Regions from separate parts of the Homo sapiens genome. Here region 2 is linked to region 1. Evidence: fine-mapped expression QTL. A gene starts in region 1. The other region holds a variant in brackets. All regions are shown on one strand. Distances are between the middles of the regions. Region 1 holds the start of CLEC2B (C-type lectin domain family 2 member B). Region 2 holds the start of TMEM52B (transmembrane protein 52B).

Region 1 (9,676 bases):
AAGAGAAAAGTGATGACATTTTTTAAGTGCTGAAAAAAAAAAAAAACCCTGCCATCTAAGAATACCATATCCTGCAAAGCTGACCTTCAAATATGAAGAAGAGACAATGTTTCCCAGACAAACAAAAACTGAGAGAATTCACCACCACCAGACATATCTTATAAGAAATGCTAAAGGGAGTTCTTCAACCAAAAAGAAAAAAACACACGAACAGAAAACAGCTGAATATCTAAAATACACTGATAAAATTAAGTGTATGCACAAACCCAGAATACTCTAATACTGTAATTGTGGTGCACAATCTTCTCATATCCCTAGTAATGAAGACTGGAAGATAAATCTATCAAGAACAATGATAACTGCAGAAACCAGTTAAGAGGTAAGCAATAAAAATATGTGAATTGGGAAAACTAAATTAAAAATGTGTGAGGGTGGAGTAAAAGTGTTTTTTTCCTTTGTTGCTATTCTTTGTGATATAAGTTGTTATCTCTTTAAAATAACTTGTTATATCTATAAGATTTTTTATAAGCCTCATAGTAATCACAATGCAAAACCTATAGTAGAGTCATTAAAAATAAAAAGCAACTAATTAATATATACCACCAGAGAAAATTATATAACCCCAAAGAATGACAGTAAGAAAAGAAAAAAGAGAGAAATTTAAAAACAACCATAAAACAAGCAACAAAACAGCCCCAGAAAATCCTTACTTAACAATAACATGGAATTTAAATGAACTCAACTCTCCAATTAAAAGACATAAAGTGCAGGCCGGGTGCAGTGGCTCACGCCTGTAATCCCAGAATTTTGGGAGGCCAAGGCAGGCAGATCATTTGAGGTCAGGAGCTCAAGACTAGCCTGTCCAACATAACGAAACCACATTTCTACTAAAAATACAAAACTTAGCTTGGTGTGGTGGTGTATGCCTGTGATCCTGGCTACTCAGGAGGCTGAGGCAGGAGAGTCGCTTGAATCCAGGAGTTGGAGGCTGCAGTGATCTGAGATCATGCCACTCCACTCCAGCCTGGGCAATAAAGCAAGACTCTCTCAAAAAAAAAAAAAAAAAAAAAGCATAAAGTTAAAGTGGCTGACTTGGTAAAGAGAAAACCCTAACTGTATGCAGCCTACAGGAAATCTGCTTCACCTATAAAGACACACAGAGAATGAAAGTGAAGGGGATGAACAAAGATATTCCATGCAAATAGAAACCAAAAAAGCCGGAGCAGCTATACTTATATCAGATAAAATAGATTACAAAACTTTAAAAGACTACTTTAAAAAGAGACAAAGGTTACTATATAATGCTAAAGAGGTCAATTCAGCAAGAGGATATGACAGTTCTAAAAATCTATGGACCCAACACCAGATCTCCCAAGTATATAAAGCAAACATTCATTGATCTAAAGGGAGAGATAGACTGCAATGCAATAATATTGGGGGACTTTAACTCCTCACCCTGAGTAATGGACAGATAATCTAAACAGGAAATCAACAAGGAATATTGGAGTTATACTGCACACTTTACCAAATATATCCAACTGACACGTACAGAAGCACTGCTGCAGAATACTCATTATTTTTATCAGTACATGGAGCATTCTCCAGAACAGACCACATTGTAGGCCAAAAAACAAGTCTCAATAAATTAAAAAAAGTAGAAATCTAATCAAGTATCTTTTCTGACCACAATGGGATGAAACTAGAAGTCAATAACTTGAGAAACCTCAGAAACTGCACAAACATGAAAATTAAATAATGTGCTCCTTAACGACCAAAGAGTCAATGTTGAAATTAAGAAAATTTTAAAAATTTCTTGAAACAAATGAAAATGGAAGCACAATAAACTAAAATCTGTGGAATGCAGAAAAGCAGTACAAAGAAGGAAGTTTATAGTAATAAATGCCTTTAAAAAAAGGTAAAAAGACTTCAGATAAATAACCTAATGATGAACTTAAAGGATTTGTAAGAGCAAGAACAAACCAAACCCCAAATTAGTAGAAAAAAGAAGTGTTAAAAAATCAAGCTCTTTCTGATGAGGTTTCTTATCTTTCATATATAACCTTATTAATATCATGAATTATTTATTAATTTTCTTTAAACCTCAGGTATCGAAAAGACAGGAAGTTTTTTCTCTGTTTTCAATGCCATGAATCAAGTAAATATGTCAGTATGTCATTCCGTTTTTCTCCCCATGAATTGGCATAATGTAAAAATATAGATGTTAGAGATATCATGATTTCAAAATCTTGATCAAACCTTTGTGGCATGTAATTGTATTTTCTTACCCCCATTTGATCCTATACTCTTCATCCATTAACTAGTACCACTTCTATTTTTTTTTAAAGAGCATATGTGTGTTGTGTTTTTAGAAAGTATAGTTACAACAGGAAGTAAATAAAAGGTAACTTTTGCTATTATTTTTTTCTTGTGTTATAGTTGTCCTGTTTTTAAATATTTTAATTATTTTGTGTGTGTTAAGAGTGTAAAGATTATTTACATTTGCAGCAAGTGGAAGTATTTTTTGAGTCAATTTCATATCTGTTATTTGAAGGAGGTAGTCAGACCATTTTGATATTCTTTCTTCCAGAATGACTGTTGAAAAGAAAACCCTAAGCTGCTTAAATCAATGGCCTTTTCAATTAAAAAAAAATCTAGCTTATTGAAGTAATGTTTCTGAAAATTGTGAAGGGATTTTAAAAAGAGGAAATAACTTCGAGCTAACAGGTAGAGAGAAGGGCAATGCACATCCTGACAATATGAGAAATGACAATTTGCAGATACAGCGGAAAATAGGAGCCCTTTCCATTGCAAAGTTGGCAAGGTATTAGAGTATAAGGACTTGGTGGTGTATACAGAGTTGGTAGATTTTACGTACAGATGACCCCAGCTTCAAAAAAGATGATCGTACTTTAAATGTGGCAAAGAAACAGTGTGGCTTTTGTTATGAGTTCAGCACAAAATAGCAGAGCTAGACCCGAAGAGGTCATTTATATTGGAACATGGTCTTCTCAGGTGTAATCAGTGGAAACTGATGAATGGAGACCATTATAACACTTTGGTGTCTTATACAACCTGGGAAACTTCATATAACCTTGGAAGAAATCTCTCACTCTCAATACCACCAAATGACAGAAAGTAAGTAAACTGTCCTGTCCATTCAGTGGGATGGAGACTTGAAGTAACATTTAATTTTATTTAAATAACTAATGAATTCAACATTTATTGCATGTCTGAATATGTAGGTACAAATTTAAACCTATTATGTGTTCATTCTCTACTTAATCTATATCGTGAACCCTGAAATCTAGCTTTTTACACTCAGCATAAGTTGTTTTCAGTTGTTTTTAATTTCCCAGAATCTTTTCATTGTTACTGAATTCTCAATACTTATTTAGGAGGCTGTAATTATTTACATGAGTTATCAGAAAAATTAGTGGCATTGGTAGAATGTGGTTAGCATAGCTGCCTTTCAAACAAATTAAAAAATTGTGATCTCCCACGATGAAGCTGATATCGAAACATGAATTTCAAAGTTGTTGAGCCTTCTTAACGTTTGATGAGGCTATGCTTAAAAGGACACTTCCCCAGACAGTTCGAGAACAATGGATTTAATTAACAGTGTAACTAAAATAGTTCTATATTTAAATGTATAATCTAAACAGTTAAGGACTGCAATTGTTTTCCCCATAGAAAAGTTTCAGTGACTCAACTGTTTTCTGTTTGATTCTGCTCTCTAAGGAAAGATAAGAAAGATGCAGAGTGACCAATGCATTTAAAATCAAACAGAATATTATTTTTCTTGGCTAATAGCTATAGAAAAAAATCATAAAATACTGATAAGCAGAGCAAATAAAATATTTGTTAAAATGTATATAAAAACTGACTGAATTATATCACACTGCCCTAAATTACCGCTATTAAAACGATGTTCATAATTTCAGATATATATGTATCTATAATATATACAATATTATACTGAATATATTATTCAGTAACTTTTAAAATATATTCATATGTAATATGATATATAATATTGTATTATATAATGTATTTATATACAAATGTATAAATTTATACAATTGATTGAAAGTAGAAAATAACACTGGTTTTACTAGTGGCTGGAAGGCCTTCTTAAAACTTTTGATTAAAATGATATTTTATGCTACCATCAAATATTGATCTCATTCCCCGCAAACCTGTTTTATCTAACTTTAGGCAGAATTATAAAACCGGTTAAAATACGGGAGGAAGGATAAAGTGTGCATTCTATTGTACCACAGCAATAATTTTTTTGACCGTAGCATACGCTGGTAGGTTGACATTTAGTTAAACGGGAAATGCTTAAAGCTCATCACAGTCCCTAAATCTCTAAATCATAGATCGTTGTATTGAATGCATTTAGTTTCAGCCTTTTCTCTTTCAAATATTTTGACATAAATAAACCCTGTTGAAATCTCAAAGATGTAGCTTGGATCTTATATATTCCGAACTTGCTATTTAATAAATCCAATGTTACCAGGTTGTTTCATAGTGTATTTTTTAGAACATTTTCTTTCCTTATCCTTCTTAGGGTTGGTAAAGACATCTCCATGGATATCGGAGTACTAGCAATTCCTTAGTAAGAGTAGGAAAGGGATATATTCTTTCCGTTAAGTACTCCTAAAGCCCGGAGTATCTTTACACCATCCAATAAAGCAATCTTTAAAAATATTAGAACTATTGGCTAAATTTATCATATTATGTATGCATTCTGAGAACTGTATGAGTATCTGGATCATATCTATCATCTTCTCAAGTATTTGTTTTATAAAATACTTAGTAAAAATGAAACTAAATCTTGAGCAGTTTTAAGTCATGGTTAATCCTTCTCCATTGTAATTCAAATAATGTAAAGTAAGTCTGAATTTATTAGGACAAAACAGTCATATGCAAATCTCAATCTTGTTATAAGAAGGAATTTTCTAGTTTCACAAAAGAAACCACAAAATTTAATTCTTTTCTCGAAGGCTTTAACATTCTGCATCACAATTTCAATAAATAACGGTCATTCTAAACAAACAAAAATGTTCTTACCGTGCTTCTTTTAATCAGCGTTTTGATTTTCTGCTAGCAGCTTTGTGTCATGTCTTGCAGAAACTCTCTTCAAAGTTGTAACTTTATTTAACTTTAATATAAAAATGTTACTCTTGTTTTTACAGCACAGCTCCAAACTAGAGGTATACCACTTTTGAAGAGTAACTCAAAGTATAAATAGCATTTTGCAAACTGGAAGTAACCATGTGACTATCTATTAGTCATACTGTTGTTTATTACAATTTTCTTCTCGTCAAAAAAGAAAGCTTGCCAAGGAGGAAGGAAGTTTGTGATATAACAATTTAAAGCTGAAGAATAAACACATATTTTCTTACTTTCTCAACTGGGATTCTCATCTGAACCACAGAACACGAAATTGCTCAAGTGGCTGTTTTTCTGATTCATCCAGGAGTGGTACTTAACCACGTATCCTTCCAGAACTGTAGGAGAGGCTGATACTAATTAATTCAACAGCATTCTTTAGGACATTACTGCTTTCTTATCCTGTGTTAAGAAAGATCACCTTAAAAGCGATAGAATCAAAGAAAAAGCAATGGTTTAAACTTTGGCTACTGAAAGAAAAACAAAAACTATTATCTCTCTCTCAAAGACAAATGCGTGCAAAGTCACACGTGTGGGTGTGAGCACACACACAAACACACACAAAGACACACAGAGGGAAAAAAGAAAACGAAAGTAACAAAGTGCCCAGAACGTTATCATCAGCATACAAGATGACACCATTATGCTTTTGCTAAGTTACCAGGCCACAATTTTGTCTTCAAATCTGCTCTAATCAGTTTCCCAGTGATTTTGTATTACCCCTCAACAAATATATTAGGGAGGAAACTGAGGAGAAGAAGCCAGTGTCCCGCAAGCGGCTTCGGGATTAACACTGCATTTGTTCTGAGAGAGAAACTTGAAGAGGAAAAGCAAATGAGAATAGAGAAGAAACTGTAGTACAAAGGAATTAAAACAAAGAAAATATGAAGAGAATAAGAAATACAGGTTTAATCATTTCTGGGCAGAAGGAAAGGACAGATAACAAAATTGCTCTTTTCATTTTTGGACAGAAAAAAAAGACAGAAAATTCATGAGGAAATGAATATATTCTACCTTTGTTGTTAACAAAAGATTGTATCCAAAGAACTATTAGAAAAGCATGTATAGAAAAATATAGAGATTACTCAAGTATGGTTGAGTGAAATTTAGTTTTGTTCCAAAAAGGAAAACAGTCAAGATACAACAGTTAAGATATAAAACATTTTCAACACAGGGAAATGTTCCCCGCTGTTGCTTTGCAGTTCATCCTCACCCCTGAAGCCAGGCAGCAGCCAACTTACTGTCAATAAACATGAGCTTTGCTGGTTTTAGAAATTCCTGTTAAGCAGAATGATACAGTTGGCAATTCTTGTAAGTCTGATGTCTTTCACTGAGCATAATGTTTTTGAGTTTTATCCATGTTTTTGCACAGATCAGCAGTTAATTTCTTTTTATTACTGAGTAGTATTTCATTGTACAGACATAAAATATTTTTATCTATTTTATAATAAAATGTATCCATTATGACATTGAGCTTTTTCCACTTCTTGGATATCATAAGGTCAAAATAAACATTTATGCAAAAGTTTTTCTATTGACACGTTTTTTAATCTTTTGAAGAAATACCTGGATGTGAAACTGCTAGGTTACATAGAAAATGTATGTTTTATTTTATAAATGTATTTTTTTCCAAAAAGTTGTGCCATTCCCAACATGAATATTGGATGGTTCTATTTGCTCCACATAAATAGCAATATTAGATATGCCCAATCTTTTTCAATTTAACCATTCTAGTAGGCGTGTAGTAGAATCTAAATGTGATTTTAATTTGTACATCTCTGATGTTATATTGAGCATTTACTCACGTGCGTATTGGTAACTCATATATCTTTTTTCAATGACCTATTTAAATATTTTTCCCATTTTTATGGATTTATTTGTTTCCTTATGGTGATTTTTAAGATTTTATATATATGTAAATATATATGTAGAGAAACATACACATAAAAATGTGTATATAAATAAGTAAAATGGGTTGCAACATAATATAGAAAAATTCCATTTTTAGATAAATGTATTAAAAATACTTTCCATCATTTGTATAGTGACTTTTCACAATTTTTTTTCTCAAAAATTTTAAAAATCTAGAAGCTTCTAAACGTTGGACTCTCTAATCCTAACAAAGTTACATGTTCTCCCTTGTCGAGGTCATGCCTTTTTCCTTAAAGAAAATATTGTGCCCTTCACACCCTCCTTACAGGAATCCCTCCCTTACTTGCCTTTCTTAGTTATTGGTCATAAGGCCAATAACTAAGGTTATGTGCTAAGCTTATAAGGGAGAGAAAGGGCTATACTCAGAATGAATTTGGACCTAACCAATATATAATAACAACAGCTTGGAGTGTACACAATGGGATTGGATTCTGAGGGTGCTAGATCATGAGAGAAACATAAAGCTGGATAAGGGAGATTTTATCAACATTAGGGCATTCAGTTGCAATACAGAATTTAATAACTTGGAAAAATACTGTGAACAGTGCTGACATACTGCTGAAATAACTCCAAGAAGATTGGAGAAAGCAATGGCTCACGCTGAGTAGAGTAACATTCCAGAATTCCCATGGCAGGTAGCTGAAGAAAAGATAAAAATGCTTAGAGAAGTGGGCATGCTACAGTGGATAAACTAGATAAGGACAGGAAACCCACCAACTGACTATGTTCTATGGGATGATATAATGGGCACCTTATTTACCAAAGCAGTAAGGAAGGCGCTGGTGGAAGAACTTAAGTCCTACATAAACATCACTGAGAAGCTTAGCATAGTTCTTCTCTACATGCCAAAGATTACAGTGGGAGATGTTCCCACAGAACTGAATTCAGAGAGAGTATTGGGACAGGGTTTGAAGTAGGAAACGCCAAGTGTCAGAGTGCCACTCTGAAACAAGCTGGGGCCAATTATAGTAATGAGGGTCAAATTGCAATAGCAGCCAGGATTACTGACATATAGAGCCATAGCAATGTCAGATAGAGCTCAATGTTCACAGAAGTAATATAGAGAGCCAAAAAGGGTGCTTCCACTTCTGTGCTGTCCTTTAACAACTGGTGGAACAGAGAAAAACACACACATAACAAGCTCTGGTTTGTAACACCAGCTGATTTCCGTGATGTAATTATTCCCACCATTGCTGATTTCAAGGTACCCAGGTGACATCACTGAACACACAGAGTTGGAAATAAATATGCAGTAGTACAGCATTACGTATTATTTTCACTATACGGATGTAACAGATGTTAATAATTTCATGCATGGATAATAGCAAAATCTTCTAAAAATCATCACAAATTGATGAGTTCTAAGTATTTATTTTATTAGCTTGGCATTAGGGCCACAATGACTCCAAATGTCATGACCCAGGTTAGGTTCCAGCCCATGCTGAGGTCTGAGGGGAGTGGGTGGATGGGCGATAGCTGAAAGAACACTTGGGGGCCCTAAGCAGGTGAAATGTAGTTTTATTTACCAACAGCGACTCTCTCACACTGTCTGCCTTTATCTCCGCTGTCTGCTCTGGCTCTGGGACTCCTGCCGCCGCCACGCCTGCAGCAGCACGCCCTGGCCTGCAAGGCCAGCTCTGTCAGGATTAGCAGCTTAACTCTTTCCCTCTGGGCACAAGCTCGTTCCTGGTTCCCCTCTGCCTGCCTTCAAGGCGACTGGCTCTCCCTTACAAGGGTCAATAGTGCTACTCTCTTTCTGGGCACCAGTGCGAGCCATGTCATGCCATGCCACGCCATGCTGAGCCAAGGCAAGCCCAAGAGCGCCTGTACAGCATCAGCAGGGCAGTTATACCTTTTCCAAACAATAGTGGATTTGAGCCAAGTATGAGCTTACACAAACAGGTTATATAACAAGTGGAGTTATATGCCTGCACTCCAAACTCATTAAGTCACTATGGCCTGGATGTCTGCCTCAGCCTACTTCTTGACCAAAGCACATTTATGCACCTTACTGTTGGTGCAAAAGTTACTTTAGATAATTTTTAAAAATAATGATGTTTAACAATTGGCTCGAGAACCCTTGAAAATTTAACAGTCAGCTGTATACCACTGACTTTGCTGGACATGTACAACGGGAAAGAAATCAAGGGTGGATTACTAGTAGGCTAAGGGCAACCATGTACTCAAAACGTATAAACTATTACCCTAATCTAGTTTGGCCCAAGCCAGTTTTCTGACAGAGGACCCAATAATGGGAGAACTCATCCTTAAAAAGAAGCCCTCTTCAACACCAAGACTAGAGTAAATGGTAAGTATTTCTCCAGTCCATCCCCAGTGCGACTTATATTAGGCTTCTCAAGCTACCATAATGAAATAACATAGGCTGGGTGGCTTAAACAACAGAAATTTATTTTTCATCATTCTGGAGGCTCAAAGCCTAAGATCAAGGTGCTAGCCAGGTTAGTGTTCAATGAGGTCTCTCTTCCTGGAGCCGACTACTGCCTTCTCACTGTGTCCTCACATGACATTTTCTCTGTGTATGTGCAGAGAGGGTATCTTTCCCTCTTTT
Region 2 (9,676 bases), 310 kb after region 1:
AAGAAGGAACAAAGAAAAGGCAAGAAAGAAAGAAACCTATACATTTGCTTTTTTAAAATTTGGTTTTAAAAAAATGTCTTTCTCAGTTATCTATTTCAATGGGAAGTGAAGTCAGGGAGGAGGAAGATGTCACTGATAACACCTGAAAATTCTAATCTTCCGACTTGATTTCTCATCTTCAAGTCTGTTTTCTCCAAAGATGAGATGGCTTTCCTGTTCACTTGGCAACCTCTCAGTCTTACCCCAATGCTTAGGGATATAAATGACCCAGAACCAGGAGAGTTGATTATCAACATAGTGAAGGGGAGGGTTTCAAAGAGCAAGAAGGGGTTGTTAGTCACACGGAGAGAGAAGAAAGGAGATTAGCAGGGTGACTTTCACCCTGCAACAGTCACGCTGGAGTACTCTGGTGAAGGATCAAGAATATTACCAGTTTTCTGATGAAGAAAGGAATATATTTGGTCACCAGCAATCTGCCTTTGACCATCCTCAAAGCCAAGTTTTTCATCGCTGTCTAGAAAAATACTTCATTCAGAGGACACATATGTCCTCTTTGAATGTCTCCTTTTTGGGAGCAGTAGGAGAAAGAAACTTCAAGATGTAGAAAGAATTAATAGTGTAACGGAAAGAAAGAAGGCAAAAGGAAGTAAATGTGGAGGCCATAGAAATAGTAATAAGAATAAAGAAGAAAAACAGGAAAGAAGAGGGAAAAGCCATAGAAAATAACAGCCAGAGCGAGTAGGAGGAGACAGAGAGAACGAGAGAGAGAAAAGCTGATAAATTCCTGAGAAAAGTTTCTCTTCTTAAGAATTCTAGGTCAAGAAGTAAAATATGGCACAGAGCATTGAAAGGAGGCAACGGATGCCCAGTGCAAGATTCTGAAGAAGCAGGAATTCAGCCCGATGGGAGTCCGAGTTCATGTCGTGGCGGCCTCAGCCCTGCTGTATTTCATCCTGGTGAGTTCAGTGGTGAAAAGGCAGAAAGAGTATTTTTCCCCAGATTAATCAACTCTCAGAAGAGTCTGAAAGGAAATGAACTGCGGGGTGGGGAGACATATACAGAACCCAGGGGGTCATAGGGAAATGAATAAACTACAAAGTTTCCTTAGTATTACGAGATTGCATAGATGCATGTGTGACTGATGGCAATGACAATGAAAAGGGGGACAGAAATTAGAGTGAGCATGGAAACGAGCAGGATTGCCGTGGCACTTTAGAAGTGCCGCTGAAGTATTTTATCTCTTTTAGCATCTTATCACCCATCCCTCAAAATTCCAAACAAATTATGAAAACTAGGTGTGTAATTCCCCTAAACGGAATTTCCCATCCAGGAATTTCTAATCCTGTTCTAGCAGTTTAGGTGCCTCTAGTCTAGAAATAAGAGAGGCAGGGCTCTTTTAAAATATTTTGGGCCCCACAATGAATCAGAAGTCTCTGAGTAATCCATTAGTGGAGAAAAGGGTCACTGGACTGAGGGATTCTAAACAATTGTCACAGGGAAGTTTATAGAGCTATGCCATCTAGCAAGAAGGAGAGCAAATGAAGAAAACTGGATAGTCTCAGATTCCCGTATGGCCCCCGTACAGAGTGGGCTGTATGGTTTGTTTTTTTTTTTTTTTTGCTAATAGAACAGTTAAAGTGGTATCTGAAAATCCATTTTTTCTTATATTTTCTTTTTGCTTCCTCTTCACTCCCTTTGCCTTGTCTTCCCTTCATTTTTCCTTTCTTTTCTCTTTGCAACAAGCCTGAAAAGTAGCATTTTCTCTGCTGAGCACTTTAGGCTTCTCTTACCTTTAGTGAAGAAAGTGAAAGAAAGTACCATGGTTGCGTAGAGGAAACACACGCTTTTTCATCGTTAGTGGCCATTTCTTTCCAATGAAAACACAAACACGGGTTTCTCAAATGTTACCTGCAAAGGCTGGCCATTAATCCTTTTACAGATCCTTTCCAACTGATAGGTCTTGAGAATGTGTGTCTCCTTACCCCTTCACTACCCGCCATAAACTCCCAATAGTTACAAATCTGTTTCTTTTCTAGGGCCTTTGTGGTTGCTTTCCTGAAATATCAGATCACTCAGGTTATTAGAAGACAGAAGCAACTTCTAGAATTGAGTTTACTTAAATGGTTTGTTGTTGTTGTTGTTGTTGTTTTTAAACGGAGTTTTGCCCTTGTTACCCAGGCTGGAGTGCAGTGGCACGATCTTGGCTGACTGCAACCTCCGCCTCCTGGGTTCAAGCGATTCTCTTGCCTCAGCCTCCCAAGTAGCAGGGATTGCAGGCATGCACCACCACGCCTGGCTAATTTTGTATTTTTTTAGTAGAGATGGGGTTTCACCATGTTGGTCAGGCTGATCTCGAACTCCTGACCTCAAGTGATCCACCCACCTCGGCCTCCCAAAGTGGTGGGATTGCAGGTGTGAGCCACTGCACCCAGCCTTGAATGGGTTTTTGAAAGAGGAAGTCAACTAAAAAATCAGGTAGAAGAAAGAGTGGACAGTTTTGTTTGTTTTTTTGTTTTCTGTAAAGGGAGTAGAAGGGACTTCATAGCAATGTCAAGGAATTGTTAGAGCAAACTTGTCCCCAGTGCTATTAATTCATCCAACACATATCTATGATAGAGTTTGATTTGAATTCTGTCTGCATCAATAGGTGTGTACATTTGGTCACTTTTTTTTTTTTCCAAGATGGAGTCTTGCTCGCCTAGGCTGGAGTGCAGTGGCATGATCTCGGCTCACTGCAACCTCCACTGCCCGGGTTTAAGCAATTCTCCTGCCTCAACCTCCAGAGTAGCTGGGATTACAGGCGCACATCACCACGCCGGGCTAATTTTTGTATTTTTCGTAGAGACGGGATTTCACCATGTTGGCCAGGCTGGTCTCGAACTCCTGACCTCATGATCTGCCCACCTTGGCCTCCCAAAGTGCTGGGATTACAGGCGTGAGCCACCACGCCTGGCCTGGTCACATTACTTAAAACCCTGTGCCTTAGTCCCTTAACCTTTCAAGATAAGGTTAAATATACCCACCAAGAGGGTTATTGTGATTAAATGTTATGAAATATTAAGAGTTCATGGCCGGGCGCGGTGGCTCACACCTGTAATCCCAACAGCACTTTGGGAGGCGGAGGTGGGTGGGTCACTTGAGGTCAGGTGTTCGAGACTAGCCTGGCCAACATGGTGAAACCCTGTGTCTACTAAAAATACAAAAATTAACCAGGCGTGGTGGCACGTGCCTGTAGTCCCAGCTACTCGGGAGGCTGAGGCAGGAGAATTGCTTGAACCCGGGAGGTAGAGGTTGCAGTGAGCCAAGATCACGCCACTGCACTCCAGCCTGGGTGACAGAGCAAGACTCAAAAAAAAAAAAAAAAAAAACAAAAAAAAAAAACTTGTTAGCAGTCTGAGTGGCATCTAGTAGCTATTCGATAAATAAGACTCTCTGTCCCACTGGCCCCCTCGCTTTTCCCCTTCTTCCTTTGTATAGTCATTGTCACACTAACAGGATAAAAAAAGAGCAGTGGTGTAGAATTCAACTGGGCAGGAATTAGGAGGACAATGGCAATATCCCAAGGGACAGAGAGATCAGGAATTTTCTACTACAAACAAATTAATGTAAATGGCTACCTCTCATTCACAAAGGGTGATGCTCACCCACCATCAACACAACAGATGAGATATTTGTTCTTCAAGGTTCCCTTACCTCAAGTACAAAAGCCAGCAAGTATGGGAGAGATGAAAATGGCAGTCCTAAATAGACTGCCCCTATGACCGTGACCTTCTTACTGCTTGATCTAACACAGCACAACCATGAGAGATGATTGGTAAGCAGCTGAACACAGTGGCCAAAACAATTTCCCTGTATAAGACAATTTCTCTTTCTACAGCTTTCTGGGACGAGATGTGAGGAAAACTGTGGTAATCCTGAACAGTAAGTATAGAGTTCAAGCTGGGAGGAAGGAGCAACAGACCAAAACATCACTACCCCAAAAGAGAGTCAAGATGTCATTAGACATCTATGACTTCTTTTTATTTATTTTTACTTAAGTAATAGATCTCATAGATGACTTATCACAAAATAAAGACGTGTTTTTGTCATCTTAAGCACTCAAAATAACACTGCTGACAGCATGTTTTTACCCAAAGCCAATCTTCCCATCAAAGCAGCACGATTAATCTCAACTTATACAGTCATAGAGACTTGCAAAAGACTTCCTTAGCCCTGCTCCTCAGTGACTCACCAGGACAGACGGTTTAGTATCTAGTCACTGGCATATATATTTGGGTGATTTCCAAAGTAACATTATTACTTTAAATTGGGAAAGTATTTTCTAGTTTTTAGGGCATGTTAACATTTATTGGGCAGACTTCATTTAGCTATCACTTTGATGTAGTTATCAACTAATCCAAACCTGTCACACTTAAGTCTTATGTAGACACAGAGGACATGAAGATAAAAATGCAAAAGAATCATTCCACTTAAAGGAACTGTAAAATACAAATTTTAAAAAGTAGTGGCACTTTGAATAAAAACGTGTTTAGGATGAAGAAAAATACATATTTAGCCATGGGAAGGGTTTCCCAATAGCCAGGTCTGTTAAACCCAGGGAAAGGGTGATAGCCTTGATTACCTGTCACATGCAAATTGGGTGTTGACTACTTGACACCTGCTTTCTGAGGTTTTACACATCTTCCACCATAGGAAGAGTCCTTTCCTATAAACCAGAGTCTAATTAGAACTAGAAGAGTTTTCAACAAGTAAGAAATGTGGGAAAACCAAGAGGAGTCATTGTTCAGTGAAAAACAAAACAAAACTATATTTTCTATAAATGTGTGACCAGAGAATAAAAATAGATTCACTAGATTTCAGTAGATTCCTGTATCAGAAAGAATTATTAAATAACAAAATTTACTACTCTTCAAAGATACACAAATATTTTGCCTCCCCTCATTCTCCAATTCCTGAACTTATCTTCTCCTTCTCCCATACAATCCCTATTTTTTTTTCATTCTTACAGAGAAAATTTACAATTGCCATAGTGAACTCAGAACATTATTTAGCTTTCATCATGGTAAAGTTGGCTTCTACTTTTTTCCCTCTTCCTGTTTGGTCTCAGTGGATATGCAAATTAGTTTTGATCCTGGATGTGAAAAATTAGGGTACTCTTTACGGTGGGTGTGATATTGTGAGAATATATATTTGGTTTTGTCCCTATCTCCTAGCATACAACTTCTAAAATCCCCAAAGTAAGTAGCATCATTTTGCATGCTAATGAGTTGATTGGTGGCTGGCAGCCCCTAGGTAGATTTAGGATGGGGCTGGTCATTGGAAGGACCAATGCAGAATGCTTAAAGCCTCACCCCTCAACATCCAAGGAAAGTAGAGGGGCTGAAGTTTAAGTTGATCATCAATGGCCAATGATTTAATCAATCACGCCTACATAATGAGGCTTTCATGAAAATCCCAAAGGATGGATTTGAAGAGTTTCTGTAAAGCTGAACAGGCAGTGGTTTCTGAAGGGTGGTGCACTCGGAAGACCTGCAAGCTCCGTGCCCCTTCCCACATGCTTTGCTCTACGCATCTCTTCATCCGCATCCTCGGTAATATTCTTTGTAATAAACTGTAGATGTAAGTAAGTGTTTCCCGGAGTTCTGTGAGCTGCTCTAACAAATTAACGCAACCTCAAGAGGGAGTCAGGGAACCCCCAATTTATAACCAGTAGGTCAGAAGCACAGGCAAAACAAATTGTGATTGGCATCAGAATTCTGGGGAGCCGTCTAGGGGACTGAGTCCTCACCCTATGGGATCGGATCCTATCTCCAAGCAGGTGGTGTTGGCATTGAATTGAATTAGAGGACGCTCAGCTGTTGTCTGTTGCTGGAAGATTGCTTGCCTGGTGTGTGCGGAAATCCTCACCCACCCACATCTGGTGTCAGAGGGTTGGGAGAGTATAGCAGGAAGAAACTAAGTTTTTTTTTTCCTACATTCTCAGTGGGAGTGTTGCAACAGCTTGCAAAAGATAAATTACAAATGTGATTGTATGACTTTCATACTCATAACTGAAATTTTCTTTATGTTTA[C/G]ATTTTATTGACCTCAAATATACACAAGCCTTAAGTTTCACATCCATTTTCAAAGTTACTCTTTGTAAACTTGCATTCCAAGTTCTTTCTTAGTATTTTTTTTTTCTTTTTGAGATGGCGTCACCACGGCCGGCTAATTTTTGTATTTTTAGTAGAGATGGGGTTTCACTATGTTGGCCAGGCTGGTCTCCAACTCCTGACCTCGTGATCTGCCAGCCTTAGCCTCCCAAAGTGCTGGGATTACAGGCATGAGGCACCGCACCTGGCCCTTTCTTGGTCATTTTTATCATAAATGTTTGCAATAGGCACAGACATGTTTTCTATGGACACTTCTAATGATCACTAGTTTGTTTTATAATGATTTACAAAATGACTCAGACAATGCCATCTATAGTATAAAGTACTATTTAAAGCATATCATTTGGCAAAAGATTCAACTAGCTACAGTGAATTTTAAAAACATAACCCATGGTGCTTTATTTATAACAAGGTATCACATCATATTGTAACTCATATTTCTGAGTCTGGAGTTATAACAGGGATTGACTATATTTTTAATGTAGAAAACTTTATTCTTTCTTTATAGTTGCCTGACCACAGACTGGGTACATCTCTGGTATATATGGTAAGTTTCACTTATAATACCCAGAAAGACACTGTATTCCTCAAGGCCATTAAAAATGACAACCTGCCTACTTACTTAGCATCTCATGGAGTAAGATTTCATTACTTCATCACTACCTATGTGACAATATGTCAGGATTTCCTTTTTCAATACCATCTCCTCCGCAAACATCAAACCATTACTGTGTCCTTCCCTCGGAGTCTGTTCTAGAAATATCTCAACGAAGATTACTTTAGTGAATTAAAAAGCAGAGCCTGGCCGGGCGTGGTGGCTCACACCTGTAATCCCAACACTTTGGGAGGCTGAGGCAGGCAGATCACTTTGAGGCCAGGAGTTCGAGACCAGCCTGAGCAAAATAAAGAAACCCCCATCTCTATTAAAAATACAAAAAAAGTTGGGCGCGGTGGCTCACACCTGTAATCCTAGCACTTTGGGAGGCCGAGACAGTGGATTATCTGAGGTCAGGAGTTCAAGACCAGCCTGACCAACCTGGAGAAACTCCGTCTCTACTAAAAATACAAAATTAGCTGGGCGTGGTGGCACATGCCTGTAATCCCAGCTACTCAGGTGGTTGAGGCAGGAGAATCGATTGAACCCAGGAGGCAGAGGTTGCGGTGAGCTGAAATTGTGCCACTGCACTTCAGCCTGGGCAACAAGAGCAAAACTCTGTCTAAAAAAAAAAAAATTAGTCGAGTGTGGTGGCATGTGCCTATAGTACTGGCTACTCAGGAGGCTGAGATCGTGCCACTTCACTCCAGCCTGGGCAACAGAGCAAGACTCTGTCTCAGAAAAGAAAAAAGAAGCAGCCCCCCAAACTACCTTAAATGTCTTACTATTTGTTCTAATGAATTGACTTACTGCAGCTGACAAAATAAGGAGGTGTATCTATAAAGCAAAAGCCTTGAAATTAAAATTATAAATTAAAATATTTATAATTATTCTATAAAATGTTTAGACAAGAATCAAAACACAGACATTAAAGACTGGTTACAGCAGAGCTGGGAAAAAAGCCAGATCCCAGAGCTCCCACTCGCCCCGTGGGCTTTTGCAGGTTGCTAGTGGTAATTGGCGCGCTGCTTCTCCTGTGTGGCCTGACGTCCCTGTGCTTCCGCTGCTGCTGTCTGAGCCGCCAGCAAAATGGGGAAGATGGGGGCCCACCACCCTGTGAAGTGACCGTCATTGCTTTCGATCACGACAGCACTCTCCAGAGCACTATCACATGTGAGTACACTGAACTTTTAACCTGGGAGGAGGACCCAATTTAAGGGAATAATGAAAAGGGTGCAAAGGTGTAGAACCACTGATCGAGTAATATTAAAGATTCCAGGACTCACAATAATTTCCATTCCCAGAAGCCTGATGGTGCAGTGACCTGGGCTGTCACTGAAGCTGTGTTCTCAAGGGTCTGTCTGGCTCATGATAAAGAAAGAAGTGAAATATTGGAGGCTATTGGAAATATTGAATAGGAAGAATTAGCCAGTTTATAAATAGTTACTTTGCTAAAAACTATTTTGAACTCCAAACGGATGCCTTTTTCAAAACGTCTTGGATTTTGTGAAATCTACTTTTTCTATTATCTATACTATTTTATATTTTTAAAGAAATTAATGACATGTACTTTCAGTTCTTTATTCTTCAAGGCTTGATACACTAAATTTTAGCCTTAACATTTTCTCAATGATTATAAGACACTTTCCCTTTTCTTCTGTGGTTCTATTCTTTCCATGACGGTTTTTTTTTTTTTTTTTTTTTGAGATGGAGTCTTGTTCTGTCGCCCAGACTGGAGTGCAGTGGTGCAATCTCAGGCTCACTGCAACCTCCGCCTTCCGGGTTCAAGTAGTTCTCTCCCTTAGACTCCAGAGTAGCTGAGATTACAGGCACCTGCACCATGCCTGGCTAATTTTTGTATTTTTAGTAGACACGAGGTTTCACCATCTTGGCCAGGCTGGTCTCAAACTCCTGACCTTGTGATCCACCTGCCTCCGCCTCACAAAGGGCTGGGATTACAGGCGTGAGCCACCATGCCTGGCCAAAATGGTTACTTTCTTTTTTTGACACGGAGTCTCCCTCTGTTGCCCAGGCTGGAGTGCAGTGGTGGGAATCTCAGCTCACTGCAACCTCCGCCTCCTGGGTTGAAGAGATTCTCATGCCTCAGCCTCCTGAGTAGCTGGGATTACAAGCAGCCACCACCACACCAGGCTATATTTTTTTAAATTTTTATTTATTTATTTGTTTATTTTTATTATTGGTAGAGACAATTTACCATGTTGGCCAGGCTGGTCTCAAACTCCTGACCTCATGATTCACCTGCCTCTGTCTCCCAAAATGCTGAGATTACAAGCATAAGCCACTGTGCCTGGACTATGCTCTTTCCTAAAATTGAGGAGCAAGTACCAGTCAGAACACCAGCTGGCAAAATGTGGATATTTATTTTGAAAAGAGAGTGATGGCTGGGCGCAGTGGCTCATGCCTGTAATCCCAGAACTTTGGGAGGCTGAGGCAGGTGGCTTACTTGAAGTCAGGAGTTCGAGACCAAGCTGGTCAACATGGTGAAACCTCGTCTCTACTAAAAATACAAAAACTAGCCAGGCATGGTGGCACACACCTGCAATCCCAGCTACTTGGGAAGCTGAGGCGTGACACTCGCTTGAACCCGGGAGGCAAAGGTTGAAGTGAGCCGAGATCGTGCCACTGCACTCCAGCCTGGGTGAGCGACAGAGAAAGACCCTGTCTCAAAACAACAACAACAACAAAATAGAATGATATGATGTGTTGCTGTTCACCTTTCCTACCTCCCCTTTCTCACTGTCATCTTAGGAAAAAAGGATAACCAAGGCTGGGCACGGTGGCTCAGTCCAAGGCGGGCAGATCATCTGAGCTCAGGAGTTTGAGACCACCCTGGGCAACATGGTGAAACCCCGTCCCTATTAACGTACAAAATTTAGCTGGGCGTGGTGGCACGGGCTTGTAGTCCCAGCTA

The links. PIP is the estimated chance that this variant, and not a neighbour inherited with it, causes the effect.
Region 2: its variant is fine-mapped to the expression of CLEC2B in tibial nerve (GTEx, PIP 0.95).

What each region holds. Positions count from the first base shown.
Region 1 is chr12:9,864,132-9,873,807 of GRCh38, forward strand. CLEC2B (C-type lectin domain family 2 member B) reads right to left here and starts at 5,223. Exons shown (of 5, transcript NM_005127.3): 1 at 5,074-5,223.
Region 2 is chr12:10,178,673-10,188,348 of GRCh38, forward strand. TMEM52B (transmembrane protein 52B) reads left to right here and starts at 360. Exons shown (of 5, transcript NM_001384896.1): 1 at 360-956; 2 at 3,878-3,921; 3 at 6,658-6,696; 4 at 7,748-7,917. The coding sequence starts at 903. RefSeq lists an enhancer at 718-1,917. The variant C/G (reference allele first, on the strand shown) is at 6,072.